Regions from separate parts of the Homo sapiens genome. Here regions 1 and 2 are each linked to region 3. The links come from fine-mapping of genetic effects on gene expression. A gene starts in region 3. Each other region holds a variant in brackets. All regions are shown on one strand. Distances are between the middles of the regions.

Evidence for each region. PIP is the estimated chance that this variant, and not a neighbour inherited with it, causes the effect.
Region 1: its variant is fine-mapped to the expression of MCMBP in lung (TOPMed, PIP 0.95).
Region 2: its variant is fine-mapped to the expression of MCMBP in whole blood (TOPMed, PIP above 0.99).

What each region holds. Positions count from the first base shown.
Region 1 is chr10:119,721,748-119,732,341 of GRCh38, reverse strand. INPP5F (inositol polyphosphate-5-phosphatase F) reads right to left here and starts at 6,292. Exons shown (of 20, transcript NM_014937.4): 1 at 5,983-6,292. The coding sequence starts at 6,079. RefSeq lists a silencer at 5,864-6,633 and enhancers at 7,244-7,293, 10,096-10,594. The variant C/A (reference allele first, on the strand shown) is at 4,214.
Region 2 is chr10:119,677,691-119,688,284 of GRCh38, reverse strand. It overlaps LOC124902513 (a long non-coding RNA gene), which reads left to right and starts at 5,614. Exons shown (of 2, transcript XR_007062312.1): 1 at 5,614-5,974; 2 at 6,547-7,135. It overlaps BAG3 (BAG cochaperone 3), which reads right to left. Exons shown (of 4, transcript NM_004281.4): 4 at 10,466-10,594. It also overlaps the pseudogene TXNP1. RefSeq lists enhancers at 1-712, 713-1,649 and a silencer at 4,399-4,578. The variant A/G (reference allele first, on the strand shown) is at 6,854.
Region 3 is chr10:119,866,628-119,877,221 of GRCh38, reverse strand. It overlaps MCMBP (minichromosome maintenance complex binding protein), which reads left to right and starts at 4,379. Exons shown (of 16, transcript NM_001256378.2): 1 at 4,379-4,695. The coding sequence starts at 4,638. RefSeq lists enhancers at 3,850-4,019, 3,885-4,044 and a silencer at 4,275-4,924.

The sequences.
Region 1 (10,594 bases), 140 kb after region 3:
ACTCCTACCAGGCGTGGTGGCTCACGCCTGCAATCCTAGCACTTTGGGAGGCTGAGGCAGGCAGAATACCTGAGCTCAGAAGTTCAAGACCAGCGTGGCCAACGTGGCGAAACCCTGTCTCTACTAAAAATACAAAAAATTAGCCAGGCATGATGGCAGGCGCCTGTAGTCCCAGCTACTCAGGAGGCTGCGGCACAAGAATCGCTTGAACCCTGGAGGCCGAGGTTGCAGTTGCAGTGGGCCAAGATCATGCCACCACACTCCAGCCTGGGCTGTCTACACTAAAAAAAAAAAAAAAAAAAAAACCACTTGTCTTCTTTTATTTAAGCCAAAAATGGGTGGGGTGAAAACTTTGTAAAGATAAGTCTTTTCTACCTTTAAATGGGAAATAAACGTAGTCATACAAATATGTACATGCATAAAAATAAACATACAGATCTATTCAACCCAACTGTTAGCCTGTCAGCAATATAAAATATGGAGTAAAAAGTAGTATAAGATATAAAACTAGTAACCCATTATAAAAACTGAAGACTAAATACACTAAGAAAAAACCTGGTTATTCAACAACAAAAATGATCAGAAAGATTTTGTAAGCCATTTAATATGTAATTTAAAGTGCCCTATTAAATTCTGTCATGGTAATTTGCAAATTTTTAGTAAACACAATATTTTTTTCTGAGACAGTCTCACTCTGTTGCCCAGGCTGGAGTACAGTGGCACCATCTCAGCTCACTGCAACCTCTGCCTCCCAGGTTCAATCGATTCTTGTGGCTTAGCCTCCCGAGTAGTTGGGATTATAGGCACCCGCCACCACACCCAGCTAATTTTTGTATTTTCAGTAGAGACGGGGTTTTACCATGTTGGCTAGGCTGGTCTTGAACTCCTGACCTCAAGTGATCCATCCACCTCGGCCTTCCAAAGTGCTGGGATTACAGGCGCGAGCCACCATGCCTAGCTACAAACAGAATTTTTTAAAAAGATAAAGTTCAAAATCCTTTTTTTTTTTTAAGTAAATACCAAATGCCACAAAACTCCAAATAAACAGAATCATTTCACAAAAATGATACCTCAAAAAAAAATTCCAGGTGGATTTCAATTCCATAATTATGATTTCTCATTCAAAAAAGTTAACCTCATATGACATAGTAAAAATAATTTCATTATCAAAAATTAACTCTAAGAAGAACAGAAAAAATTTTTAACATTTCTGTGAATTCTAACTAATACCTAGTATCCCTCAAAAAATTGTTCAGGCCAGGCGCGGTGGCTCATGCCTGTAATCCCAGCACTTTGGGAGGCAGAGGCGGGCGGATCACGAGGTCAAGAGATCGAGAGCATCCTGGCCAACATGGTAAAACCCCATCTCTACTAAAAATACAAAAAATTAGCTGGGCGTGGTGGCGCGTGCCTGTAGTCCCAGCTACTCGGGAGGCTGAGGCAGGAGAATTGCTTGAACCTGGGAGGCAGAGGTTGCAGTGCGCCAAGATCACGCCACTGCACTCCAGCCTGGCAACAGAGCGAGACTCAATCTCAAAAAAAAAAAAAAGTTCACTGGGATTCATCACTTAGAGTATCACCTTTCCATATACAGTTTCTATGTTTATGAATGTTATGTGTATGACAGATGCTTTGAGATCTCTTCTTGGTCGCTCAGTCTCAGAACAGAATGTGAATTATTATATAATTTACACACAGCTATAAATTATATAATACTGTCATATCAGACAAAGCCACAAGGACTAGAGGAAGCAATTTTAAGACCAAAGAGATAAGACCATATCAGCATTCCCCCAAAGTGGATTGTATTATATTTCTTTTTGAATCTTCAAATTACAATTCTTATCCTGAGATATTAGACTCTACTCTCAGAAGATTACTGAATGTTTACACGGTGCTTTATCACTTTCCCTGTAGAAAATAAAATAACCAGGCCGGGCGCGGTGGCTCATGCCTGTAATCCCAGCACTTCGGGAGGCCGGGGAGGGTGGATCACCTGAGGTCAGGAGTTCGAGACCAGCCTGGCCAACATGGCAAAACCCTGTCTCTAGTAAAAATACAAAAACTTGCCAGGCGTGGTGACAGGTTCCTATAATCCCAGCTACTCAGGAGGCTGAGGCAGGAGAATCGCTTGAACCCGGGAGGTGGAGGTTGCAGTGAGCCGAGATCGCACCATTGCACTCCAGCCTGGGCAACAAGAGCAAAACTCTGTCTCAAAAAAGAAAGAAAAAAAAGAAAAGAGAAGTAGTAGTCATTATCTTACAACAGACATAAGCATCTAAGCATCTATCAAAAAACTGCTATATATGAATACAGATTACTCATTACCCTTAAAAAAATTAGAAACACCAGAAAAAAAACAATACTTCGTTTTTTAACTAGGAGAAAAAAAACCTGAAAAAGTTTAAATAATGTTAAAGAGGAAAGTAAGGAATACTACCAAAAAGATATTTTAAAAGCCCAGTGTGGTGGCTCATGCCCATAATTCCAGCACTTTGTGAGGCCAAGGTGGGAGGATCGCTTGAGCCCAGGAGGCCAAGATCAGCCTGAGCCATATAGTGAGACTCCATCTCTACCAAAAAAAAAAAAAAAAAAAATTAGCCAGGTGTGGTAGCACACACATGTAGTCCCAGCTACCTGGGGGACTGAGGTGGGAGGAATAGCTTGGTGCCGGGAGGTAGGGGCTACAGCAAGCCATGATCACGCCACTGCACTCCAGCCTGGGTGACAGAGCAAGACCCTGTCTCAGAAAAAAAAAAAAAAGATAATGAGATAATGCTACATCAGATAGAAATATAACACAAGTGCAGGTGTACCTTTCCTCATATTTCCTCATCCAAATGGACAGAGATTTTCCACTCCAATTAAAATATATTCAAAACAGCCCTAAAAAGAGGCCAGGCGCAGTGGGTCAAGCCTATAATCCCAGTACTTTGGGGGGCCGAGGTGGGCAGATCACCTGAGGTCAGGGGTTTGAGACCAGCCTGGCCGACATGGCGAAACCCTATCTCTAACAAAAAATACAAAAATTAGCTGGGTGAGGTGGCACACACCTGTAGTCCCAGCTACTCAGAAGTCTGAAACAGGAGAATCGCTTGAACCTAGGAGGCAGAGGTTGCAGTGAGCCGAGAACACGCCACCGCACTCCAGCCTGGGCAACAGAGCAAGACTCTGTCCACTGCCCGCCCCGCCCTTTCCCCCTCCCCCAAAAAAACAGGCCTAAAAAGAGCAACAAACATAATACAACATCTTATTTTTAAGGCAATGATATTACTGAGAGAGAACTTAGACTTAACTTTAATTCAGCTCAACTCAAACAAAAACGCCTTCTCTGTCCTAAGTACTCTAAAGCCTAGAGACACCAAGATGAGGAGTAAATACAGCCCTTGCCTTGGGGAACACACTGGGACTTCCCACCGGGGAAGAAGTAGGCAAACTTTTATTATGATGATGCATAAGGGTTAGAATTGAAGTGTCCACTAAGTGTAGAAAATGCCTGGAAACACAATAAAGGTGGCCAATAATTCTGCCCCAAGGATGAGGGGTAGCATCTGAGCTGGGTCTTATGGAATGGACTAGGTAGGAAAAGGGGTTGACAGTAACAAACATTCCAGGCTAAATAAATGAGTATTTTAATCTTAAATATCATCATTACTTATCCTTCTGATGTCTCTAGAAAAAGGAAAACTCTTGTTTCAGGTTGTTCAATAGTCACGAATGTAAAAACCACGATGCCCACAAGCTTTTTTGAGCTTATAATACTGCCCTTTCAAAAAAGAAAAGGACTTAGTAATCTATTCAGCTAAATAACCAGTAGGAAACAATGAAAGATTTTAAATGCTGTCACTACAAACAGCAGCAAAACTTGCCATAAAAGCACAGGGGAAAAGTCCAATAAAATAAAGAGAATTTTAAATGATTCCATATACAGAAAAAGATCTGAAAAGCACTTATTCAATTAAAATGCCATTCTTAAATAGCCATTAGTTAGAAAGGATCTTCAGTCCTGGACAGGATAAACTATAGGAAAATCAAGTGCATGGGATTCTTTATTCCCTGGCTATCCTGAACACCTTAAGATCAAAACTGGCTGTTACTTCTGAAACATGGCCTCTTCCTTCCTCCAGACATTTGGTCTACTTGGTCTGTGGCCCGCTATATTCTAAAAAGTATGCCAATCTCAAGTGCAAAGGCTATAGCTACTTTCCTCCCC[C/A]AAAAAAGTTTTAAATTTGCCTTCTGACATGGACTTTGAACAAACAGTAATCCAAACTGCATGGCTTCATCCAAGAATCTAGGCGCAGGTTAGCCTTTATAGTTCAAGAAACTGGGGTGTAGAAAAGTTTGTTGTCAGATGAGTTGGAGACGATCTTAAGTCCCATCCAGTTCTAATAGTCTAAGCTTTTAGAATCCAAGGAGTTGACTCTTTTGACAACCTAGGAATTTTGAAATCTGCTTTACTTCAAGCTGTACTGAAGCCTTACCCAAATTTGGGGGAGTGAAAGGAGGGAAGGGGAGAAAGCCAGACAAATGGTCAAATCAGAGAAGAGAATGACAGAAGACTGGCCAAAATTAGCCTATCCATAATAACTCTATCCCGAGATCATCAAGAACTTTATCTGGGCCAAGGAGTTTATCCTCCATTCTGAAAAGAGGAAATACAACGTAATAGCAAGAAAATATAGACAGAGCCTGAGGAAAAAAATAAGTTATCCTTCACTGCTCTGGCAAAGCAACTAGTAGGCCTTCCTAAGAAAGCAGTGGGGCCTGCCCAAAAGTGTTCTGGAGGTCACAGAACTGCCCTGTGTCAGTGTCTCAACTCTAGGCTGTGACCCCGAACGAGTTACTAATAACCTCTCACTCCTTTCTCCTCACCTGAAAAAGAGGATCCCACACGTGTCCTGTAAGGTTGCTGTGGGGATTGGAAATAATATGTTAAAGGGCCTGTCCTTAAAAACCATCCTATAAGTGATACCACGCTGTGATCTGAAAAGCTCATCTGAACCTTTTATCCTTTTCAATTCATATCATGTAATCCTTCTGTCTAGACTGCACATAAGAATTACAAGTAAGTCTGAAAAGCTCTGGCTCCTTCCTTAAAGAACTCTATCCTCTCGCTTTCCCTAAAGTGGAAGAATCTCTGAGTGATATGAGGAAAGGATTAGCAAGCCAAAAGGGGCAGGTGCCACCCAGCCCCATCTTACAAGAAACTGGACTGTCAGCGCTCTGAGGGCAGGGACTGCTCTGTTTAAACCACGACTGCACACACATTTTCCTAAAGCAAGCTAATTGCAGACTTAAGCCTCTCCGAACAGCTTACATGACACCCAAACATGGACCCACAATACATTTTGTGTCGCACAACATCAAGTCACACAAAAATCTCAAAATTATACATTACAATACAATTTAATTGTGCTGTGGTATTAAAGTCAAAGACAAAGGCTTTAAACCGAGTGCCTATGAGGTAACCACAGTAAAGTCACACCTTTAATAATAAGGGACCAAGAACACACGGGATGGCAACAGGGAGTGAGTGTCCAGCAGAGCCCTAGACGGAACTGGCGCAACCGCTCCAGATCGGAATTCGAACCCAGAACTTCTGGCGAAGGCCATGTAAGAACTACTCCAAGGAGGAAGAGGCCTTTACGGCCAGGTGCACCTTGCTGGAACTTTCTGCCGGAGGGGACCCCCTCCCCTCGGCCTGGGCCCCAAGCCCCAAGGGCGGCCGCGTGACGCGGTGGGAAGGACGAGGGTCGCCAGCCCCTTCTGCTCCGCACTGGGGTAGGGGCTCGGCGCTGTCTCGGAGAAAGGCCAGGCTCCTTCCAGTCAGGGAATAATGACAGCTCGCGCGCTCGCAGCCCGCCCCGCCCCGCCTCACCAGGCCCGCAGGCGGCTCCTCCCGCCCGGCTGAGGGGTCCGGCCGCGCCCCCTCCTCTCCCCGCCCTGGCCCGGGGTGCCCCCCGCCCGCACCGCCAGCCTCACCGGGTCGGAGCTGGAGGCCGCCGTCGCGGCGGCTGCACCACAGCGCGCGCTCGCCCTGCTGCAGGATGTAGTGGTCCTTGGCTTGGAAGAGCTCCATGCTGGCCCCGCGCGCCCAGGGAGGCGGCGGCCCGCGGGCGGCGCACGGGGCGTCCTAGTCGGTCGAGGCCGCCAGAGCCCGCGCCTCGGGGAGCGGCCGGGTAGGAACCGCGCCGAGAAGCAGCGGCAGAGGGAACGCCCCGGGGCACCCGACCGGTAGGAGGAGAACGCGCCCCGGCAGCGGCGGCGGCAGCGGCGGCCGTAGAGGCCTCTCCCCCCCGCTCCTCCCCTTCCCTGGCTCCGCCCCAGGCCCGGCTCCACCCCCTCTGCTGGCTACTCTCCCCGAGCGCCCGGCTCCGCCCCTCAGCCTCCTCCTCCTTTCAGCTCCCTCCCGCTTCCTGCCCTTTCCTCCGCCTTCTCCCGGGTGTCTCCTCCCAGCTCCTCCCCGCGGGTCTTTCCTCCTCCCTCTCGTCCTTCCGCCCGCCCCTCCCGCTCTTGCCCAGGCCCCTCCCCCGGCGCGCCAGCCTTCCTGTCGTGGTCACCGGTGGCAGCTCGGGAGCTCGGCCGAGTCGGTCTGGACTGACCGCCTCCCTCCGCGCGGCCTTGGGGACAGGCGCCCACCGCTGGGGCCTCCCCTCCGTGCAGGGAGGCGCTCACGCTTCGCCAGGCCGAGACCTGAATCCAACCCCACACCCGCTCTCCCGGAGCGGTGCGGGGTACGTTCCCCGCGGGCCTGCGCTGCCTGCCCGTACCGAAACCAGGCGAGACCCCGGGGCCTGGCTACAGGGGTTCATCCCCAGCCAGGCCCACAGCCAAGCGGAGGCGTCTTCTGTTTTCGTATTCCCTATTAGAAGTTTGACAACAGGAGGCATTCAATAAATGCACATCAACGAGGGAAAGCATGTAACAATAGAAAACACACAAGCATTAGCAGCACGCGGCTAAAGAGCGAGGAGGAAGGGAGGAATGTACAGGTGCTGCTGTGTCCCGAATTAAGCAGGGCGGTTTGGAGAAGACTTCACAAATGGAGCCAGTTAATGAAGCAAGCGGAAGGAATATCGTTTGGCGAGGATAAGATGAATGGAGACCCTCTCGGGGAAGGAGGAGTCTCCCCCAAACATCCTTGAGCTCAGTCTGTCTTGAAAAACCAGTTGATATCCTGAACAGAATGGGTCTGGAGAATGAGGCCCCCACTTCCGGGGCCAGTTCGAGGACTATCTAGCTGTGTGATCTTGGGGAAGTCTCTTGGTCTCAGATGGTGGTTGAACTAATGACCTTTTATGACACCCCCAGTTCTATAAATCATTGAGTCTTCCTACTCCTAACTCCTTGCCTTCTCTAATGCCTGAATCGGAAACAAGAGAAAAAGACAAGAAGTAGGAGATGAGAAAAATAAGGCAATACTTTTTTTTTTTTTTTTTTTAGTTTAGGAGCGGAAGTTTATAGGCAAAAGAAAAGGGAGAACAGCTGTCTCTCTTGCGAGAGAGAGGAGTGACCGAATGGGACTTCTCAGAAAGCAATACTTTTAACCTTCTGCTCAAGTAAAAGTGAGAGGGTACAAAAGCAGGAAGGAGTTCCACATGACTAGTTATTCCAGCCCACAGTGTTGAATTTCCATAGCACAGAAAGTCCAATGATAACAAAGCGTCCTGGAATCTTTTCTAAGTACCATGCCTCTGTGCTGTCCAGACACCTCAACATAAAGGTCGAGGGAGGTGGTTACTCTATCAAATCTTTGTGATGTGATTTGGAGAAAGAAGGTAATGAAGCTATAAGAAGCTTCAGTGGAACCATCGGTTTCAGATTGATTGTTTAATTCAGCCATGTGTTGACTTAGCAAAAATGAGAATGAGAAAATCCTATGAAGACATTGTATCCTGCAAATTATTTCATTATTGTTTTATGAATTACATTGCCAGATGTGAAGAAAACAATGCTGTTGTAACTGTTTTAAAACAATTAATTAGTTCATTGAAACTTTTCCTGATGTTTTAGATCCATGGTTCCAACCCTGGCTGCCTATTAGAATCACCTGGGGAATTTTTCAAACATATCAATGCTTGGACCTTAGACCAATTAAATCAGAATTTAATTGGGGTGGGGCTCTGGCATCAGTTTGTTTATTTTTTCTAAGCTCCCCAGATGACTTTACTATGCAGTCAGGCTTGAACACCACTATTTTAAGTGAAATTAATTAGTAAAATCTGCCTGACAGCAGCTTGGAAAAAAACAGCAGTCAGTCATTAACTAATGCCATCATATGGGCTTGGTTACCTGTAAATGCAGAGTTAACAAGCAAAGTCTTTAGGAGAGAGGAAAACATGGAGGGGAGATGCTTCTGTAATTATCTGACCCCAATGCACACTGCTGTCTCCCTCAGGCTCCAAACACATGCTGTGGGGTAGGCACAGCTCTAGCCTGGCTGAGCAGAGTGAAAAGAGCACATATTTTCTGTCCCTGGTAGATGTCACATCCCCAATCTACTGCCACAGTTGCCTTGCCTTGTTTCTGCTATGAACTTCCTGAACCTTGGCCACTGCAGCCTCTCCACTCCCTGGCTAGCCTATCCTCGGCCTGTGGCTAACTTGCCAGCCTCATCACCCTCTTCCAGCTTCCTAATTCAAGGTCCTCCTGCCCCGATGCCACCCAGGTTTTAATGGAAAGTTCACGTGATGCTGCTCTCCTTTTTAAACACAGATGACCATCATACATATTATATATCTTCTTTTACGTGTATGGCATATATATGCTAATTTAAGTATAATCACTAAGGAGTTTGGTTCTAGCCAGTTCTGTGTGATTTTGGTCAGTTCACTCAATCTCTTTTGATCTCAGGGTCCTTATTTATGAAAAGAGATGATCACTAAGTGTTCCCTTCCAGTGCTGAAATCAATGTGAGGAAATGTGTCCACGTAGTTAAACCTACACAAATGATGGTAAATAAGCCAACTGTGATTATCGATTTAGCCCTTCAATATCTCTGAGATCTTTGGATTAGATTTTGGTATCCTCTGGTGAGATTTGACTTTAACATCATCTCCTGTCTTCTGTCTACTTGTCCATAGTCTTGTTTGTTGTCTGTGATAACTTTCTTCAGTCTTGTCTATGAGAAATCTCCCAAAAGAAGAGATTTATATTTATATAAATATATTCCCCCCTCCCCCAGCCTGCCTGGAGGCTGCTAATGTTGCAGGTCAGCAGTCCAGGTGGCTTAACTTTGTTTTTTGTTTTTTGTTTTTTAATTTTTTTTTTATTGATAATTCTTGGGTGTTTCTCACAGAGGGGGATTTGGCAGGGTCATGGGACAATAGTGGAGGGAAGGTCAGCAGATAAACAAGTGAACAAAGGTCTCTGGTTTTCCTAGGCAGAGGACCCTGCGGCCTTCCGCAGTGTTTGTGTCCCTGATTACTTGAGATTAGGGAGTGGTGATGACTCTTAACGAGCATGCTGCCTTCAAGCATCTGTTTAACAAAGCACATCTTGCACCGCCCTTAATCCATTTAACCCTGAGTGGACACAGCACATGTTTCAGAGAGCACAGGGTTGGGGGTAAGGTCACAGATCAACAGGATCCCAAGGCAGAAGAATTTTTCTTAGTGCAGAACAAAATGAAAAGTCTCCCATGTCTACTTCTTTCTACACAGACACGGCAACCATCCGATTTCTCAATCTTTTCCCCACCTTTCCCGCCTTCTATTCCACAAAGCCGCCATTGTCATCCTGGCCCGTTCTCAATGAGCTGTTGGGCACACCTCCCAGACGGGGTGGTGGCCGGGCAGAGGGGCTCCTCACTTCCCAGTAGGGGCGGCCGGGCAGAGGCGCTCCTCACCTCCCAGACGGGGCGGCTGGCCGGGCAGGGGGCTGACCCCCCCACCTCCCTCCCGGACGGGGCGGCTGGCCGGGCAGGGGCCTGATCCCCCCACCTCCCTCCCCGACGGGGCGGCTGGCCGGGCGGGGGGCTGACCCCCCCACCTCCCTCCCGGACGGGGCGGCTGGCCGGGCGGGGGGCTGACCCCCCACCTCCCTCCCGGAAGGGGCGGCTGGCCGGGCGGGGGGCTGACCCCCCCCACCTCCCTCCCGGACGGGGTGGCTGCCGGGCGGAGACGCTCCTCACTTCCCAGATGGGGTGGCTGCCGGGCGGAGAGGCTCCTCACTTCTCAGACGGGGCAGCTGCCCGGTGGAGGGGCTCCTCACTTCTCAGATGGGGTGGTTGCCAGGCAGAGGGTCTCCTCACTTCTCAGACGGGGCGGCCGGGCAGAGACGCTCCTCACCTCCCAGACAGGGTCGCGGCTGGGCAGAGGCGCTCCTCACATCCCAGATGGGGCGGCGGGGCAGAGGCGCTCCCCACATCTCAGACGATGGGCGGCCGGGCAGAGACGCTCCTCACTTCCCAGATGTGATGGCGGCTGGGAAGAGGCGCTCCTCACTTCCTAGATGGGATGGCGGCCGGGCGGAGACGCCCCTCACTTTCCAGACTGGGCAGCCAGGCAGAGGGGCTCCTCACATCCCAGACGATGGGCGGCCAGGCAGAGACACTCCTCGCTTCCCAGACGGGGTGGCGGCCGGGCAGAGGCTG
Region 2 (10,594 bases), 190 kb after region 3:
AGATACAGGTCATAAAGACCTTGCTAATAAACCAGGTTGCAGTAAAGAAGCCGGCTAAAACCCACCAAAGCCAAGATAGTGACAACAGTGACCTCTGGTTGTCATCACTGCCACACTCCACTTGCACCATGACAGTTTACAAATGCCATAACAACATCAGGAAGTTACCCTATATGGTCTCAAAAGGGGAGGCATGAATAATCCACCCTTTGTTTAGCATATCATCAAGAGATAACCATAAAAATGGGCAACCGGCAGCCCTCGGGGCTGCTGTGCCTATGGGGTAGCCATTCTTTTATTCCTTTACTTTCCTGATAAACTTGCTTTCACTTTACTCTATGGACTCACCCTGAATTCCTTCTTGCTCCAGATCCAAGAACCTTCTCTTGTGGTCTGGATCAAGACCCCTTTCCTGTAACACAGTCAAACGGTAAGCCAATGGGAAGCTGGGTTTCAGTCTTTGTGAGAGTTTCTCTATTTTCATTCCTGTTCCTTCCAAAGGGTGAGGCCCTTTGGAAGTTGAAAGCTGGCGGCGACTACTTGAGCTCTTCCTTCCTTAGCATGAGACTGCTGGGAGCTTCTCTGCCTCATGAAATAGGCAAATGCCTCAAAATTCAAAGCTCTGCTAACCCTTCTCTCCAGGACCTTGACCCTCAAATCCTCACCCCCTTGGCGGCTCACCTTCAGATAGGTCTTGTTTGTTTTGCCAGCTTTTCTAGCTGCTCCGGATAGGAGGACTGATCTGCCAATCTGCCTTTAGGGGAAACAGCAAGAGATTGCCTCTCAGTCTTTTCTTGAAGCTTTCAAATGCAGGCTTTAGGCCTATTGTGATGCTAATGGATCTCCTCTGCCCTTACTTTGCCCATTCTGCATGGAGGGGGCAGCTCTAGTCCCCCAAGCATGAAAGAAGTTGGGTACTCCCGGTTCTGATCATTACTGCCACCAGGAAGAGCTACGGGGTGAGAGGGGGGATGGATTTCTCCCTAGTTATGTAAGAAACAAGCAGGTCTCACCCTTCATTTTTCCTTTCTCATACAAGGTGAAATACTGCAGTCTCATACGAGGAAGCATGTTTTTCCTGTTAACATTATTTCGATCCTGGTCCTTAGGGAAAAATAAGCCCGGCATTAAAGTGCGGGGAGCACTCACCTTCCCCCACCCCACAGTCTGGCTTATAGTGCTAGAACACCAACCAAGTGGTGACTGGGCCGGACCACAAATGGATGCGGATGCGGTCAGCTCCCGTTATGAGGATAGAATTCTAATCAGATTGTGGATCCGATTACTTCTGACTCATAAATCTCCCTGACTTTAGAAAACAGGGATATCTTATTTATTGGAGGAATGACAGTGTGAACAGAGGCGTGGCTGCGTTCTCACCAGCTGAGATAAACGCCGACCAGACCAGCACAGACATCCTGTGCTCGTTTCCTTTACTTGGTTTTTCAAATAAAGCCTTTGTGTGTCACTGGTATTGTGAGGAATACGAAATAATGAAAGAAGTGATTCTTCAGGTGAGTCATTCTATTATAAAATGGAGCCCACCGTCAGGAACTGCTCCCTGAGAGAGCAGGACAGGATTTCCCTGCGCGGGGAGTGAAAGCAGAAGGCGCAGTCACGACGCGCCCCCTACTGGTCAGCGAGGAGAAATCCCTCACCTCAGGTTTCAATTAGTGCGGGTGAGTCCTGAATTAGGAACCTCAGACCTGAGGCCTGGTGTGGTGGCTCACACCTGTAGCCCCAGCACTTTGGGAGGCCGAGGCAGGTGGATCACTTGAGGCCAGGAGTTTGAGACCAGCCTGGCCAATATGGTGAAACCCCGTCTCAGGTAAAATAACAAAAATCAGCTTGACGTCGTGGCACACACCTGTATACCAGCTACTCAGGAGGCTGAGGCAGGAGAATCGCTTGAACCCGGGAGGCGGAGGTGCAGTGAGCCGAGATGGCGCCATGGCACTCCAAAGAATCACAGAACTGGCCAGGCACGGTGGCTCACGCCTGTAATCCCAGCACTTTGGGAGGCCGAGGTGGGAGGATCACCTGAGGTCAGGAGTTCGAGGCCGGCCTGGCCAAAATGGCGAAACCCCCCTCTCTACCGAAAAATGCGAAAAGTAGCCGGGCATGGTGGTGCCCAACTACTGGGGAAGCTGAGGCAAGAGAATTGCTTGAGCCAGGGAGGCCAACGGAGGTTGCAGTGAGCTTAAGTCGTGCCACTGCACTCCAGACTGGGTGACAGAGAGGAACCTTGTCTCAAAAAAAAAAAAAAAAAAAAAAAAGAAAGAAATATTACTGAGAATCACAGAACTGAAGTGGAATTCCATGAATCCAATGGAATTACATTAAATTCCATGAGTAGGAATCCAATTCCATGAATGAAATTTCATGAATCCAATGGGATTCATGGAATTGCTGACACACAGTGAGATACTAAGGAGGCTAGGAGGCTAAGATGAAGAGCCCCTGTCTCAGGACTCCAGGGCCTAATTTAACAGCCACAATCTGCCAAGGTCAGAGGTAGCCTTAACGTGTACTGTACTCATAAATCAATCTCCCTGGAGATTTCAAACCTTCAAATTGCTTTGGTAAAGCCTTAACTCCTTTCAACCTGAGGAAGTCGATTGAAGAAAAAAGCCTTAGCTCTAAAGAAAGATTTTGAGTTTCTCATTCCAGTGGACCACAAAAAAATAAAAAAGAAAGAAAGAAAAATCGCATTTGTGCAAAATCAACCATTTACATTTTATACTAATCAGTAAGTTATTCTTGGGCCTCGTGCTTGTTTGTAAACACATGCCTTCTCTCTTTCATTCTAACTGGAAACTTTATCCTTAAATCTGTTCGTGCAATAATTATGAAATGTAATTTTATTTTTAAACAATATATTTTCTTTTGTTTGTTAATTTCTTACTTTTTTTTTTTTTTAGACAGAGTCTATGTTGCCCAGGCTGCAGTGCAGTGGCGTGATCTCGGCTCACTGCAACCTCTGCTTCCTGGGTTCAAGCTATTCTCCAGCCTCAGCCCCCCAAGTAGCCGGGATTACAGGCATGCGCCATGACGCCCGGCTAATTTTTTTTGTATTTTTGGTAGAGACGGGGTTTCGCCATGTTGTCCAGGTTGGTCTCAAACTCCTGGCCTCAAGTGATCCACCTGCCTTGGCCTCCCAAAGTGCTGAGATTACCGGCGTGAGCCACCATGCACAGACTCTTTTGTTAATTTCTTTAATTTTTAAATTTCTATTGATATATTATAGTTGTTCTTATCCTGAAGATATTTTGATACATGTATAAATGCATAGGATCAAATCAGGGTAGCTATCGATCGCCTCTATGTATTTTCTTGTATCTTGATCGTTAGAGTGAAATATAAGGAACAAAAAACAAACATGGAGAAGTTACCATGTTTTTAGTATTTTTAAATCCTAAGGGTTTGAAAGGTATATATTTGGGATAATGGGCCTTTTTGTCTTTTTTTGTCTGAAGGAAATTTGTGACCCAATAATTAGTCAAAATTATCTCCAAAAAATGTTAATGAAACTGGGCACCTTTTGGGAGACATTTTTAAATTATGTCAGCTACTTCAGTGTCAGAGGGTGGACAGAGTTGGCTGAGAACAGTCACATTTAGACAAGAGTCTTGTGTGTACTCTTTTGGTTATGAAAATGTAGGGCAAGTAAGCACTCATTGCCCTGAGTGAAAAGTGACATAAACATTTTTTTAAAGGGTTCATGAAGCCTGTCCCTCCCTTAATACCTCTTGATGGGAAAATTTCATTGTCAGGCTGGGGCTCACACCTGCAATCCCGGCACATTGGGAGGCCAAGGCAGGCAGATCATCTGAGGTCAGGAGTTCGACACCAGCCTGGGCAACGTGGTGAAACCTGGTCTCTACTAAAATTACAAACATTAGCCGGGCATGGTGTCGGGTGCCTGTAATCCCAGCTACTTGGGAGGTTAAGATGGGAGAATCACTTGAACCAGGGAGGTGGAGGTTGCTGTGAGCAGAGATTGCGCCACTGCACTCCAACCTGGGCAATAAGAGTGAAATTCCATCTTAAAAAAAAAAATTAAAAATTGAGAGATTTCACAGGAACAAATTTCTGGTCTTTCTGGAAAATTGGAAATCTCTTGTAACGCTGGACCAATGCCCCACATGACAATTGCTGCGTGGGGCCAAGCATCAGTCCCTGGCTCTGCCCCCAGACTACATCCAACTTGTGACAGCTTGGCTCTGTCAATCCTCCACCTGGCTGGCCTCTGTGAACTGTGGGATCGCACCTTGTGGAAGGCTTGTGCTGGGATAGAGCTGACTCAGTGCTGGGGGATCCCTGAGGGGACCCCAGGATTTGAATTCCAGGTTCCTAGAGGATATCAGCTGAATGCTCACCTTTCTGTGTGCCCTGTAGGCATAGATAAGTTTGGCATTCAGGAGAAAGAGGGTACCAGAGCTCCAAGCTCGATCCGGCACTTTTGGATCCGTTTCCATCGGTTCTTACAGCTGCTCCTCAGACCCTAGCAGCCAAGATGGTGAAGCAAATTGAGAGCAAGGTTGCTTTTCAGGAAGGCTTGGAGGCTGCAGGTGATAAATTTGTCATGGTTGACTTCTCAGCCACGTGGTATGGGCCTTGCAAAAAGATCAAGCTTTTCTTTCATTCCCTCTCTGAAAAGTATTCCAACATGGTATTCTTTGAAGTACATGTGGCTGACTGTCAGGATGTTGCTTCAGAATGTGAAGTCAAATGCATGCCAACCTTCCAGTTTTTTTTTGTTGTTTGTTTGTTTGTTTGTTTTTGAGATGGATTTTTCCTCTTGTCCCCCAGGCTGGAGTGCAATGGCAAAATCTCAGCTCACAGCAACCGCCATCTCGCAGGTTCAAGTGATTCTCCTGCCTCAGCCTCCCGAGTAGCTGGGGTTATAGGCATGCGCCACCAGGCCTGGCTAATTTTTGTATTTTTAGTAGAGACGGGGTTTCTCCATGTTGGTCAGGCTGGTGTCGAACTCCTGACCTCAGGTGATCCACCCGCCTCAGCCTCCCAAAGTGCTGGGATTACAGGTGTGAGCCACCGTGCCTGGCCCTTTCCAGTTCTTTAAGAAGGGACAAAAGTGGGTGAATTTTCTGGAGCTAATAAGGAAAAGCTTGAAGCCACCATTAATGAATTAGTCTAATCATGGTTTCTGAAAACATAACCAGCCATTGGCTATTTAAAACTTGTAATTATTTTTATTTACATAAAGTATAAAGTATGGAGACTATAAACCCAACTGCCATCTGGATGACAACAAAATATGAATTCTACTCTTTTTTAAAAAAAAAAAAAAGAAGAAAGAAAAAAAGAGGGTATCAGAAACAGACCCAGAGATGACTGGGGTCTGGGAGGAGGAAGCTGGAGAACCGGTGAGTGTGAACAGTATGCATCAGTCAGGGTTCGCCAGAGAAACAAAATACACATATACAGCGCTTGTGTGGTGGGGATGTGTATGTGTGTGTGGGTTTAATTTTTATTATAAATAGAGATGGGGTTTTGCCATGTTTCCCAAGCTTGTCTTGAACTCCTGGGCTCAAGCAATCCACCCTCCCCAGTCTCCCAAAGTGCTGGGATTACAGGCATGAGCCACCGCACCCAGCCATGTGTGTATTTTTTTTTTTTTTAAGGATTTGGCTCACATGATTGTGGGGACAGACAAGTTGGAAAGCTGTAGGGCAGGGCAAGTCAGGGCAGGGCAGCAGGCTAGAAACTCAGCCAGGGCAGATGCTGTAGTCTTGAGGCAGAATTTCTTCTCCTCCGGGAGAAATCAACCGATGGTAGATGTTAACCAAGTCTGTAGAATATCTACTCAGCAGCATCTAGTGCTGGAGTTAAATAGCTGGGTGCTATGGTCCAGCCAAGGTGCCGCCTGAAACACCCTCACATGGTGGGAAGAGCGGTGGTTGAAGAAGGAACCCTGGAGACCTTGATGTTGAAGAGAGGGCAAGGGAAGAGGGTGAGTCAGAGCCTGCTGGGGAGGAGAGCTGGAGACATTGCATAACACCAGTGACAGTGTGCCCACAGAAGTGGTTTCGGTAGGGGTGGGTGCAGGAATGGATGGCTGTAGGTGGATCAGGACGTGGGAGGTGAGGGGACTTAGCTGGCTCTTCCACGACATGTGATCAGAAAGTGGGGGTGGTGAGCTGGGGGTGGTGACCCGGGCACGATGGCTCATGACTGTAATCCCAGCACTTTGGGAAGCCAAAGCAGGTGGATCACTTGAGGTCAGGAGTTCAAGACCAGCCTGGCCAACATGGTGAAACCCCTTCTCTACTAAAAATAGATTTTTTTTTTTTAATTTAGCTGGGTGTGTGGCACATGTCTGTAATTCCAGCTACTCGGGAGGCTGAGGTGGGAGAACTGCTTGAACTTCGGAAGCAGAGGTTGCAGTGAGCCAAAATTGCACTACTTCACTCCAGCCTGGGCAACAGAGCAATACTCTGTCTCAAAAAGAAAAAGAAAAAGAAAAGTGGGGGCAGGGGGTAAAGTGAGGAGGAAGCATTTCTTTTTGGTTTGTGTTTTCTGTAGGCTAAGGACAAGAAAAGAGCCATTGGAGAGAGAAAGAGATGAAGTGGAAGACAGTGAGTGAGGGGCTGGCAGAAGGATTTCCCCTCTTCAAACTAGAGGAGAACTTCCTCAGCCTCCATGCAGCCGGCCAGATCCTAGGGCAAAGCTCTGGCTAGAGAAGGCAAGGACAGGCAAGAAAATGTTTTAGAAAAAGACCCTTTCCATCTGGAATGCTTTTTCCAACTCCCTTCACACCTTCAGGCTGGCTTCTAGTTGCACCAGGAACTCTGGGCCCACGTGTGAGGTGCGGGGGCAACACTGTCCATCG[A/G]GAGGACCTGTGGCTGCCTCCTCATCCCTTCCACCAAGCGCAGGATGGCACCATTGCTGGCTTCTGCTGCCCTCTGTTGTGGTCCTGTACCTCCTCACCTGCTCAGATGCTCCGCGGGGACTGATGGAGCTCTTCCTGGTCTCCAGTGGTTCTTACTGGGTAGTGCTGGACAACAGAGTACCAGGAAGGCAGGGACCTGGCCAAGCGCACATACGCATGAGTGGAGGAAATTTTACAATTTTTAGGAAGCAACAAAGTATAAAGTGGGAATTGCACATCTTCCTTACGTTTCTTTTGTTGTTTTTATTTTGAATTACGTATTGAGGGAAGCGCTACAATTTTTTCCATAGGTGGGTGTCTAGGGCTTCCCCAGCCCCGCTCTCAGCCCTCTGCACTCACACTTTTCAGAGCCACAGGATGTGTAAGGGCACCGGAATCACCAAGGGTGGGTGTGCCTGCTGGAGCTTTTTTTGTGCTGCCTGAAAGTTCAAAACACGCTGGAACAGGGAAAGAAAGGTATTTGCCCAAGTGACTAAGACATGTTCCAGCGTTTTCCCACAGGCTCCTGCACATCCCAAAATAACTGCAACCCTGGATCCTGTCCGTTGGCATTCGATTACATTTGTATAATGTTACAGACAGTGGGCAGGCCGGCCAGCCACACTCACACAGGGGCTTGCAGGACCGCACAGCCCATAATGGAGCTCCACGCTATGCTTCCTGGCTAGGCTGCTAAGGGAGAAATACCAAGGCAGAGACCACAACAGTAGCCAAGTGCAGACCTGCCAGAAACATCCAGATCACCAAGAGGGCCCTTGGGCAAGGCCCTCCTTTCACAGATGAGAGCAAAGGGCACAGAGAGAGGAAATTACTTACATAAATTAACTTAAATAAATTACATATCTGGGAATTATGAAAGTTGGTGAAAGAGTTGGCCCTCAACTCACAGCTCCTAAAGAGGTATTTATTTGTGCAGGAACATCAATTTAGCCTTAGAATCCTAACATCTTAAGTGGAAGGGACTTTTAAGCACTCCCTGACCATCCAGGGTGCTTCTGTGCCCAGGTCTGGACAACAATGTGGGAAGAAGGAAGTGTCGGAATGAACCTGCCACCCCTCCGGGGATTCTGTCTTGCTGAGGAAATGACTCAGGATGTTGAGAAAACAACTGGGTTTTGGCAAATGCACAGAAGGGTGCTAGGAGCTTTGGGAAGGGAGAGTCTGAGAAGGAATGCGTGGTCCAGGTGGGGAAAGTTTCAACCCAAGGTGGGCCTCAGAGTGGGAAGATCTGGAGGCTGGGCATGGTGGCTCACAGCTGTAATCCCAGCACTTGGGAGGCCGAGGTGGGCAGATCACTTGAGGTCAGGAGTTCAAGACTAGCCTAGCCTGGCCAACATGGCAAAAAACCATCTCTACTAAAAAATACAAAAATTAGCCGGGGTGACGCACACCTATAATCCCGGCTGCTCGGGAGGCTGAGACAGGACAATCGCTTGAACCCGGGAGGCAGAGGTTTCAGTGAGCTGAGATTGCATCACTGCACTCCAGCCTGGGCGACAGAGTAAGACTCCATCTCAAAAAAAAAAAAAAAAAAAAAATGGAGTCGGAAGATTTGGAAAAGCAGATAGAGAGGGCCTGAGCAGGCATCGCAGGAAATAGCCCTGACACTCGGTAGATGCTCAGTGGCTGTAGCCCCCCAATGCCTACAGGGGCCAAGACAGTTGTGTCACCAAGAGCGTACAGCTAGCTCTATGCCCTGCTCCCCACACAAGGCCCAGGGGCCACCAACACAGGCCAGATAACTCCCGTCCTGATGCCCACAGCATGTCTCATTTGGATGATTGAAAATATTCCAACCACATTAAACAGCTACTTATTTGATGATGTTTAGTGATAAAAATACTATCAACCTAATCCAGTAACCACTCAAGGAGGCTTAACGTCGTATGAGGTCCATTGAGTCCCAAAGAGAAGTGGTCACATCATCTTTGGTTCTTTTTTTTTTTTTTTTTGAGATCGAGTCTCACTCTGTTGCTCAGGCTGCAGTATAGTGGCGTGATCTCGGCTCATTGCAACATCTGCCTCCCAGGTACAAACAATTCTCGTGCCTCAGCCTCCCAAGTAGCTGGGAGTATAGGTGCATGCCACCACGCCCGGCTAATTTTTGTATTTTTAGTAGAGGTGGGGTTTCACCATGTTTGCCAGGCTGGTCTCGAACTCTTGACCTCAAGTAATCCACCCGCCTCGGCCTCCCAAAGTGCTGGGATTACGGGAATGAGCCACTGCACCCAGCCTGGTTCATTTTTAAAATAGTCTAGTATTTTTTTTTTTTTTTCCTATTTACATGTTCGAGTTTCTAGAATCAGTGGCATGTCGGCTTGTACTCCCCAAATGAGTTCACCCAGGAATGATGTTGGCAGATTCCCATGGGAATGACTTCAGCCTTCCTCAGCAGGCTAACAGTGGCAAGCACACCAGGGTGTATTTTTGTGCAGCATCGTCAGGCACCAGTATTAAACTCAATACAGTCATGAGAAATTCAGCTCGGGGGCTCTTAAGTCAGCACTTCACTGAGAGTTCCAAGGTCTCAGGCCTTTCTCTTTTCACTTTATTTGGCAAGTAGTTAAATAAATAAATAAAATAAAAATAAAAAATAAACAAATCCAGCACATCTCCATGCTGTGGGGCTGTGGTCCCTCCCAAGGTTAAAAAAAAAAAAAAAAAGCCACTGGCACAGCAAGAAGAATCTCCTTCTACCCAGGCCTGAGTGTATCTCGTCCCTAACTCCAGAGGCTTCTAGGAACCCAATCCAGGAAGATAAATCTGGTCTCAGTTTGGTTTGGTGACTCACAAGGTGTTAATAAAGATGACCCCAAGATTCTCAGAGCACATTTCCAACCCCCAGTGACCTAGACTCCAAGGAACACTTTGGCCAGCCTTGGGCAATAGTGGGAGCTGGCTTCCCTGTGCGCTTCCTTTTTTAATTTTTAGAGACAGGGTCTCAACTCTGTTGCCCAGGTTGGAGTGCAGTGGCGGGATCACAGCTCACGGCAGCCTCATCTCTTGGACTTAAACTATCTTCACGTCTCAGCATCCCTGGTAGCTTGGGACTGAAGACGCATGCCACCACCTGGCTGATTTGTTTTTTGTAGAGACAGGGTCTTGCTATGTTGCCCAGGCTGGTCTCAAACTCCTGGCCTCAAGGGATCCTCCTGCCTTGGCCTCCCAAAGTGCTGGGATAACAGGTGTGAGCCATTGCGCCAGGCCCTCTGGGCACTTTTGGACAATCTCAGCTTCTTGGTGAGGCCTGAGGACAGGTGGGCAGACATGCTACCTAACTGGCACCTTGGCTGTTGGCTGGGTCGGTCCGAACGGATGCAGCAGGCATGTTCCCATTACCGGAGTTCACAGCCCTGAGTCTTCCCAGGTTCCTGTTGCAATCTGAGACTGAAAGGTGACCAAGACAATTCTCTCTTGAGCCGGGCTATTGGAGACGTCACAAAACCCAAAGCAGGCTTGTTAAATGCACCTGTCATTTATTCTGACTGAAACCAGGGACAGACAATCTCCATGATGCCACTGCTTTCAAAGATTTAGAAACCACAAAAACCATTTTGAGTTATATTATTACTTTATTTTCTTTTTTTAAAATGTAGCATTAAAGTCATCCAACATACAGATATTCCTATGGCTCCTGGCACATTTTACTCTCTCTAAAGTCAGGTATTTTAATTATGAGAT
Region 3 (10,594 bases):
TCATCATAAGGCAAAGGGAAAAAGGGTGAGAGAAGGTGAAAGAGCATAAGCAAGAGCACGCATGTGTGTGAGTGTGTGTCTGTGCGTGCCTGCACACACGCGGAAGAAAGAGCCAAACTCACTTTTATAACCAACCCACTCCTGCAATAGTGACATTAATCCCTTCATAAGGGCCCTGCCCCTGCCCCTTAAAGTTCCTACCTCTCAACACTGTTGCATTGGGGATTAAGTTTCCAACACCCAAACTCTGGGGGACACATTCAACCCTTAGCATTCCCTCACTAGAACATATACACATCTGTTTATTCCTCTTATAAATATTCATCTATTCTTGCCTAGCACCTCTCGTGAGTAATTAGTAATAAGTCTTCTGCTAGACTGTATGTTCCATGAGGGCAGAGATGGAATCTCTTTTTTCACCCCATATTTCCAGTGCTCTCTCAGTAATTTTTTTGTTTGTTTTTGTTTTTTTGTTTGTTTTTGAGACGTAGTTTCACTCTGTCGCCCAGGCTAGAGTGCAGTGGCACGCTCTCGGCTCAATGCAACCTCCACCCCCAGGGTTCCCCCAATTCTCCCGCCTCAGCCTCCCAAGTATCTGGGACTACCAGCACGTGCCACCACGCCCAGCTAATTTTTTGTATTTTTTTTTAGTAGAGACGGGGTTTCACCATGTTAGCCAGGATGGTCTCGATCTCCTGACTTCGTGATCCGCCCGCCTCGGCCTCCTAAAGTGCTGGGATTACAGGCGTGAGCCACCGCGCCTGGCTGCTCTCTCAGTAATTTTTTATAGACAGAGTTACTTAATGCCCTCCATAAAAATACAGGCTCGCGGTCGGGGCAGAAGTGTGGTTACTGATAGTGGGAAAAAAGAAATCTTGCCATAGAAACAGACCTTCATGAACACTCCCCTGGCCTTTTACATTTTCATGACTACTTATTATTATTGTCATTGTTATTATTTTTAGAAATGGAGTGTTCCTCTGTCTCCCAGGCTGGAGTGCAGTGGTGCGATCATAGTTCACTGTAACCTCGAACTCCTGGGCTCAAGTGATCCTCCCACCTCAGTCTCCCAAGTATCTGAGACTACAAGTGCACACTACCTCCCCCAGCTCCATAACTACTTAGTATCAAAACGTCTTGCCACAGAAAAATCAGAGGGTTAAATTATTCACATTATAAAATAATTACATTTCAGAAGGATCACAGTGTCTCCTTAAGTAAAATCCGAGCAATTTTTTTTTTATAAATCACTAAATACTCTACCAAGGAAGAAACCAAAAGAAGTTTTCACAGAGATGGGATTCACGACTTGCTACCCCAAAATATGGCACCTTGGCATATTAAGTATTTTAAGCTGAAGGAATTTGAGAAATAGCACATGCAGGAAAGGCTCCCTGGCCTTCCCCTGAAGCAGATTATAAGACCCTGACATGAGAGCTGCCCTCCCTCTTCCTGGAGGACAGGAGCATCCTATCTTAAAGATGAAGGGACACGGAAAGGAATCTAATGCACAGGCCTTGCTAAATTTCCCCTAGTTTGCTGGACTTAGCTCACAACCTTTGTCCTATCACATTCTTCTATGACTCTCTTCATCAAACCTAGCATAAAAACACTTGGTTTTAACGCTTCTTTGGATCTTCATTTCCTTATGAAGGCTCCCATTTCTTGTAAAACGTGTATGAAATAAAGTGCATGCTTTTCTCTTGTTAATCTATCTTTTGTTACAGGGGGTCCAACGTAGAATCTAGAAGGGTAGACGGAAAAGATATTTTTCCTCCCTTACACTAGCCACTGCTGAATTGGTATCAAGCTGCAATTTAGATAAAGTAAATTTGAATTTACAGGGATTTAAGAGCAGACATTTCCATATCATACATTTAATTTGCCTGTTACTGGCCATGAAGCGAAAATATGGGATTTCCCCTTTTGATGCCAGGGTCTTGGCAACCCTGTCTCTTAAATGAATGAATGGAATGGTGGTAATGACCTGGATTTGAAACTCAAGTTTTCTCAACGTACCCAAACTCACAGGAACCAGATGTACAATTGAGTGTGTCAATTAATTACCTTACACTAAGAAATACAAACTATTCGTTTTTGCCCTGAAGTAAACCAGAATGTCACCCCAAAATGTGCCACTTTGGCATAAGGATTATTTTCATATTATTAATTTAATTATAATATTATTATCTTGGTAACTGAAAAGTAGATCCAGACAGTCCCCAACTTAACGGTGGTTTGACAAGATTTTTTGACTTTATGATGGTGTGAAAGCAACACCCATTCAGTAGAAACCATACTTCAATTACCCACACAGCCATTCTGTTTTTAAATTTCAGTACAGTATTCAATAAATTGCATGAGATATTCAACATTTTATTATAAAACGGGCTTTGTGTTAGATGCTTTTGCCCAACCGTAGGCTAATGTAAGTGTTCTGAGCATGTTTGCAGTAGCCTACTGATGTTTGATAGGTTCCGTGTATTAAACACATTTTCAACTAATGACATTTTATTTTTTTGAGACGGAGTCTCGCTCTGTCACCAGGCCGGAGTGCAGTGGCATGATCTTGGCTCACTGCAACCTCCGCCTCCCGGGTTCAAGTGATTCTCCTGCCTCAGCCTCCAGAGTAGCTGGGACTACAGGCGTGCGCCACCAGGCCCAGCTAATTTTTGTATTTTTAGTAGAGATGGGGATTCACCATGTTGGCCAGGATGGTCTCCATTTCTTGACCTCATGATCCGCCCGCCTTGGCCTCCCAGAGTATTGGGATTACAGGAGTGAGGCTCCACGCTGGGCCTCAACTAATGATATTTTCAATTTACAATGGGTTTATTGGGATGTAACTCCATCCTAAGTAGAGTAAGTAGAGGAGCATCTGTACAAAACAAGCTCCCTACCCTTCCACTATGTACCTAAGAGCAGGACATACATTTTCAAAGGTGTCCCACCTCCTCTTTCTACCAGGGACAAAAGTTAGTCACCAGAGACAACTTTAGACCCTTATCAGCCAGCGATGGCGCTAGAAGAACCTACATAACACACTTTACTCACTACCTGTAACTACCATTAGTTTCTCGTATCTCTGCCTTCCCACTCTGCTGTTTTTGGAAACTTCAAACTGCTTTCGCCATTTCTCCCCAGTTATTGTTCTTTATTGTAAATGCTACGTAATTCCCCCATTCTAAGCCACCTGTTTGAGTTACTCTTCCTTGAGTTTTGCCCATATAAGATGTACATGTTACTAAATTTTTCTTTTGCCAATCCGAGCTTTGTGATAAGGGCCGCAGTGGAGAACCTAGAAAGGTAGAAAGATTTTCCCCCCTTCCTACAGCCCCAAGGAGGGTTTGAGACACGGGTTCCGTTTTTTTCCTTCAGCTCCTCACTTTGTAGATTCCATTCAGGTCATTCCCCTTCCGTCACCATGCCCTTTTTTCATTGAGTAGATATATCTGATGGGCCTGGGGTTTTCTTAGGTACATTTCAGGCCCAGGGGAGACACAGTTTCATTCTTTTTTTCTTTTTTATCGGACAGCCTCCTGAACCAGAAGAGGTTCAGAGCGACTCCCACAGTTTCACTCTTGAACTTGGGTATTTTCCAAATTGCCTCAGCAAAAGGCTGCTGTAGTCGGTCTTCGTAGCTTCCTTCTCCAGGGTATCCTAGCGGCGCGCAGTGCAGGAGCCTCGCACCGCTCCCCGACGGCGGCTGCCAGCTTCCAGACAGACGCCGACCCGGTGTTCGCAACCAGGGCGCAGGCCGGGCCCGGAGCGTTTAGAGCGCCCGCCCCTCGGTAAGGAACCGTCCCTGAGCCACAGGGCCTGACGCGACTGCAGAAGGAGCGTGGGGTCCTCCGAGGTTCCCCTTCTCTAAATGTGCACCTTCCTCAGGGAGACCTTGTGCAGCTGAGGGAAAAGTCACCACTCAGGGTTTCGGGCCGGGGACCCAAATAAAAGTGCTGCCATCAGCAAAAAAAGAAAAAAAAGGCACGAAGAGGAGGTGGGCGGATTCCCAAGGCGGTTTCGCCCACTAATTTTGCCCAGAGATGACTCTGAGGTCTCTGAGCTTAATGCTTTTCAGCTGTTGTGCAGACTCGCTTTGCCCTCTTATAAGCCCACTATGGGAGTTCCCGCTACACGCCGGCCCAGGGGTACAAACGACAACGCGCCGCCCTTGGAGCGCGTCGCCGGGCCCCGCGCTGCGCAGCCTCCAGCGGCGCTGCGTGCCCTTCCTTTTGCCCGTCTCCAAGATGGCGGCGCCGCCGCCGCCCCTCCTCCTCGCCGCGCAGAGCCGCGCTGCGCCGCGCGCTCCCGCCGCCCCTCCCCACGCGAGCTCCACCCAGGTCGCAGGCAGCGCGGTCGGCGGCGGCTATTTCCCGCCATTGTGCGAAGTGAAGGCTAGGGGCCCGTACGCGCCCGCCTGACTGTCGCCAGCAGCTCCTCGGCGGCCCCACCGCAGCCGCCGCTCCCTGAGGCGCGGGAGGCCCGCGCCCCGCGGCTCGCTGTGCGTGGGAGGGCGCGAGCGAACGCGGGCGAGGAGCGGCCGAGCCGCTGAAGAGGAGCTGGGCGCCGGCCGCCCGGCCGCGCTCGGCCCGCGGATCGCCTCCGCCCGGTCTTCGCCGGCCCCGGCCCCTGGCGAGATGCCGTGTGGGGAGGATTGGCTCAGCCACCCGCTGGGAATCGTGCAGGGATTCTTCGGTGAGTGGCGGCGCCGGGGGGCGGGCCGGGCGGGCAGCCGAGTTTGCCGGGCCCCGGGGCAGGGCCCCGCCGCGCGGCCCCCACGCGGTACCATCTCGAGGGCTCGCGTGGCCCGAGACGGGGCCCCGGGGCCTGCACCGGCCCCAGCTGGGACAGCCTCTCCCCCGGTCGCAGCAGGCAGGGGCAGGAGCCGGGCCGCAGGTACCTCCCACCTGCCCGAGTCGCAGCTTGGGAGCCGCCAAGGTGAAGTCGTGGGGCGCGGGCTGTGATTCGCGGGCTGTGATTGACGGCCTCGCTCCCAGCCTGTGGCAGGGCCAGGGCCCCGGCCCCGGGCGCAGCAAACTCGGAGGTCCTCGAACCCTGGGGAGGGCCCGCAGAGCCGCGGGGAGGGAAAACCACTTTGCCTGTGGGAAGCCCACAGGATATTTCAAAACTTCCGGTGCGTCGGGGAGTGCTCGCTTGCACAGAAGTTGGTTCTAACTCCTGTGCTACCCTCATTCTCTCTTTCAGAGATAAGATTTAATGTTCATAGCTTAGTTTTCCTGTTGGGATGACTTTAGAACCCATCTAGTCTGGATCTGCTCCTGTGCCAGAGCCAGCAAGAAATATTGAGCTACTTGAGTTTGTACACAGGGCTGAGAATCCTGCAGGCGAGCTTAGTAAATTTTGGTTGCGATTGCTGTTGCTACTTTACTGCGAAGGGTATACGAAGAAAAGTTTATATTTGTTGTCGTTAACTGGGCATTTTGACAACCGTTCCATTCCCCAGTGTCTTTTTACACGTAATGAGTGGCGGAGTCAGATCCAGCTAGAAATCACTGTAGATGGCAACACCTGACTTGTCTGGAGTTAACTTAGAGTTGTAGAGCGGCCTTAGCTCATTGAAAAAAACATCTTGGGGTACTAGAGAGAAAAGGCAGTGGGAAGCTAAATCATCCTCAGCAGCCAAAATCGACGGCAAACAATGTATGGTATTTCTTATAGGAGGGCCTCTAGTGCTTACTCAGGAAGTCCTTATTAATTTACCTGTAATTCTAATTAGTTTAGTTACCTGGCTTCCCAGGCTGTAACTAATGGCATTATATTAGAAAAAAGCCTGGATAGACGTCCGAACTTAGCCAGTGAACACTGACAGCCTGATGAAGAAATTTAAAACTACCTTCATACTTGAAAAAAAAAAAAATTCACTATATAGCAGTCAAGGGTGCTTTGAGGAAGGGGCATATATTTCTCCACTAAATCCTAGTAATTTATGTTCATAAGAATTCTAGAAATGATAATCGATGGTCAACACAATGGCCCCAAAATGTCAAGTGAAGATTCAATTGTAGCATTGGTTTAAGAGGGTGCAGATGCATAGATACTTTTTAGGAAAAATCCCTCCAAAGTAAAAAGGTTTGGTGCTTAAAGGGTTAAATTTCAGTTACTAATATTAGAAAGTTTATTTATTAGAAATACCCCATACTCTGATTTTGCTGGATAAATGAGATGATTTCATATTTGATAGAGATTTGAATGTATTTGTGTCAAATTTTGTCTTCTAAATGTATGATCCTAAGGGACACATCTCATCATAGTACAGGAAGGATGTAACTTAGATATAAAATAATAGCTTCAGAGTATTTTATAAATTATGTGGATTGTTGTGGGAACCTGAGAAGTTTCTTGATGTGTTTCTCCCCAGAATGTCTTGTTCCCGTGTACGTTGTGTCTTATAGAAAAGTCATAATGTGTTCGTAGAAGCTGTTGCTATATTTTCGTATCACTGTGATTGTATTGCATATCTTTATTATAACAGCATTACAAGTATGTTTGTGTGATAACTTATAGGCACTTTTTGGTTTAGTAGGAAATTGTTTTCCCCCCAGATAGGTAATGCATATGCATTGTACAGAAAGAAAAAAGCAGTTCAGCAACATATAGCAGAAAAGGAAAGATCTTTGAAGATCCTTCACCTTCAAGATAACCACTGGTTCGTGGTTGTGTAGTTTATTTTCTCTGCATATATTTAGACAGTTTTTTTAAACTGAAAAGTTAAGTTTTGTTGTGTATTTTATTTTGAAATATGCATTTTTTTTTTTTGAGACAGTCTCGCACTGTCACCCAGGCTGGAGTGCAGTAGCGCAATCTCGGCTCACTGCAACCTCCGCCTCCTGGGTTGAAGCGATTCTCCTGCCCCAGCCTCCGGAGTAGCTGAGACTATAGGCCCGCGCCACCACGCCCGGCTAATTTTTGTATTTTTAGTAGAGACGGGGTTTCACAGTGTTGGCCAGGATGGTCTAGATCTCTTGACCTCGTGATCCGCCCGCCTCGGCCTCTCAAAGTGCTGGGATTACAGGCGTGAGCCACTGCATCCAGCAGCCTGAATTTTTCCCTTTCTTACTGTCCTTGTCATATAGTATTGTATAAACTTATTAACCCTGTCATATATTTTAAGTTAGGTGTCACAATAATCTAGAGTGTGCTGTCCAGGGCAGTAGCCATGTGTGGCTATTTAAATGTAAATTAATTAAAATTACACAAAATTAAAAATTCACCTCCTCGGTGTTAGCACATTTCAAGTGCTCAGTAGCTACATGTGGATAGGGGCTATTATATTAGCACAGATCTAGCATATTCCTAACATCAGGAAGTTCTCTGTACAGCACTGATCTAGAGGACACCGCTTTTTAGTATGTGATGCTAGTTTTTTTGGATAACCAGCTACTCACTGACTCTCTTTCAGGATCTGAATTTGGTCACTGTATCTTATCCGTTCTAGGGGTTTTGTTTTTGTTTTTGCTTTTTTTGTTTTTGAGATGGAGTTTCGTTCTTGTCACCCAGGCTGGAGTGCAACAGTGTGATCTCGGCTCACTGCAACCTCCTCCTCCCAGGTTCAAGCAATTCTGCCTCAGCCTCTGGAGTAGCTGGGATTACAAGTGCCTGCCACCATGCCCAGCTAATTTTTTTTTTTTTGAGACTGAGTCTTGCTCTGTCACTCAGGCTAGGGCGCAGTGTTACAATCTTGGCTCACTGCAGCCTCTGCCTCTTGGGTTCAAGTGATTCTCCTGCCTCAGCCCCCTGAGTAGCTGGGATTACAGGTGCATGCCACCATGCCCAGCTAATTTTTGTATTTTTAGTAAAGACAGGGTTTCACCATGTTGGCCAGGCTGGTCTTGAACTCCTGACCTAGTGATCCGCCCACCTTGGCCTCCCAAAGTGCTGGGATTGTAGGCGTGAGCCACCACACCGAGCCGCTAATTTTTGTATTTTTAGTAGAGACAGGATTTCACCATGTTAGCAAGGCTGGTCTCGAACAGGTGATCTGCCTGCCTCGGCCTCTCAAAGTGCTGGGATTATAGGCGTGAGCCACCGCGCCCGACCCAGACCCTCATCTCCAATGCTACTGTCAAAATTAAAGCCATCGTAGTCTCTTTCCTGGACGCTGGAACAGCCCTCTAACTGGTTTCTTGCCTCCAGTCTTGCTTCTCTTCCACCTGCCATACTGGAACCAAGTCCTTCAGTGACTTCTTGTTACCCTTACTATCTGATCCAGGACTTTTAAAGTGGTTTATGAGGCCCTTGTTGGCTCCACCCTTGCCTTGCTCTGAGACTTTATCACTGCGTACCCCCTCCTCATACTCCATCCCAGCCGCACTGAACCTTTTTTCAGTTCTTTAATTTTGAACCTGTGTCTAGGCCTTTTTGCATCTGCTGATTTCTTGTGCCTGATTCCCCCTCCCATCCCATGTCCACTTTTCTGGCTAAGTCTTACTTTTCCTTTGGGAACTTAAGTTAGGTACCAAAGTAGGGTACCCCTGCTCCATGTTACTGCAGGATCCTATTATATATGTCTTTGAAAAATAGTGTGTAAAGTGCATTGTTGAAATTCCTTGTTTCGGAAGTTCCTTTGCTGGATTTTGACCCCGCGAATTCAGGGCCCCTGTATCTGCATTATTCACCACTGTATCCTAATTTCTTAGAATTTGCCTTGTACATTGAAAGTGCTCAGTGGACACTTGTTGAACAAAAGCAGTGAAAAGACTGATTAATCAGAAATGTTGTTAATTGAAATGGCTAGTGAGATCACAAATCTCAAAATTTTTCTTTTCTTTTTTTCTGGAGTCAGTGTCTTGCTCTGTTGCCCAGGGTGGAGTGCAGTGGCGTGATCTCGGCTCACTGCAACCTCCGCCTTCTGGGTTCAAGCCATTCTCATGCCTCAGCCTCTCGAGTAGCTGGGATTAAAAGTGTGCACCACCATGCCTGGCTAATTTTTCTATTTTTAATAGAGACAGGGTTTTGCCATGTTGGCCAGGCTGGTCTTGAACTCCTGGCCTCAAGTGATCTGCCCCCACTTGGCCTCCCAGAGTGCTGAGATCTCAGGTGTGAGCTGCTGCGCCCAGCCTCTTTAGCTGTTTTCCCTTCAACTATTGGTTAGACCAAGATCATTATTCTCGTTATATTTAAGCTTCTTTGGTTGTATCTAACAGAACTAGACTAGCTCATGCAAAAAAGAGCAGGGTTGGGTGAAGAGGGGCAGAGCAGACTATTTTATCACTAGCATTTTAGAGAATTTAAAGCAATAATAAAATGAACTAAAAGTTAGTTGGTCTGCTTTTTATTATCACCATGAATCTAAACAGACAATCTGTGCCCTTATTGTCTGTACCCAGCTTGGACCTCTTCTACCACTCTGTCCTTGGTAGGCCACTGAAAAAAGTTAATTTATATTAAGGCTATAAAACCCAAGAACAGGGGAAGTGGTTGGGTATTCGAAGAGACTGAGTGGAATCAGGAACTGGAAAGCTAGCAGGAATCCAAGCAACTCAGTATTTCTTCTCTTGGGATACATTAATCTCTGCACACTTTCTCTTTCTCTACTCCATGTCTCCCAAATTTACTTGTTCTCGGTTCCAACCCACGCTAGCTAGCATCTTTATTTTCAGGCATAGAAAATCTGATTGGCACAACATGGAGTCAGGAATCCATTCACTCAGGGATCAGTCATCTGTGGCCATGGCACAGAGTTAGGTAGGACAATCGTGACTGTTATCCACACCTCAACATTGGGGGCGTTCTCAAAGAAGAAGAATAGCTCCGGCAGCCATGGCAGATGGCATACGTAGGAGTTTTTAAGTTATAATAACTTACACATGGTTTTAAAAAAAATCAACATGATGGTATGAACTGAGTGAAAGTACGTGCTCCCTCCATTGAAGTAACCACTTTTTTTTTTTTTTTTTTTTTTTTTTTTTGAGATGGAGTCTCGCTCTGTCGCCCAGGCTGGAGGGCAGTGGTGCGATTTCGGCTCACTGCAACCTCTCCCTCCCAGGTTCAAGCGATTCTCATGCCTCAGCCTCTTGAGTAGCTGGGACTACAGGCGACCACCACCACACCTGGCTAATTTTTGCATTTTTAGTAGAGTCGGGGCTTCACCGTGTTGGCCAGGATGGTCTCGACCTCCTCTGCCCTCGTGATCCACCACCCTCGGCCTCCCAAAGTGCTGGGATTAGAGGCATGAGCCACCGTGCCCTGCCTGAAGTAACCGCTTTTAACTGTTTTTGCTTTTAGAGGTTTTTTTCTTTGAGACAGAGTCTCGCTCTGTCACCCAGGCTAGAGTGCAGTGGCACGATCTCTGCTCACTGCAACCTCTACCTCCCAGGTTCAAGCAGTTCTACTGCCTCAGCCTCCCGAGTAGTTGGGACTACAGGCGCCTGCCACCACACCCAGCTAACTTTTTGTATTTTCGTAGAGATGGTGTTTCACTATGTTGCTCAGGCTGGTCCAAAAAAATTTTTTTTCTTTGAAATAAAATTCACATAACAAAATTTAACATTTTAAAATGTACAATTGAATTTTTTTTACTGTATTCATAATGATGTTGTGCAACCATCACCACCACTATCTTTTTCTCTTTTTT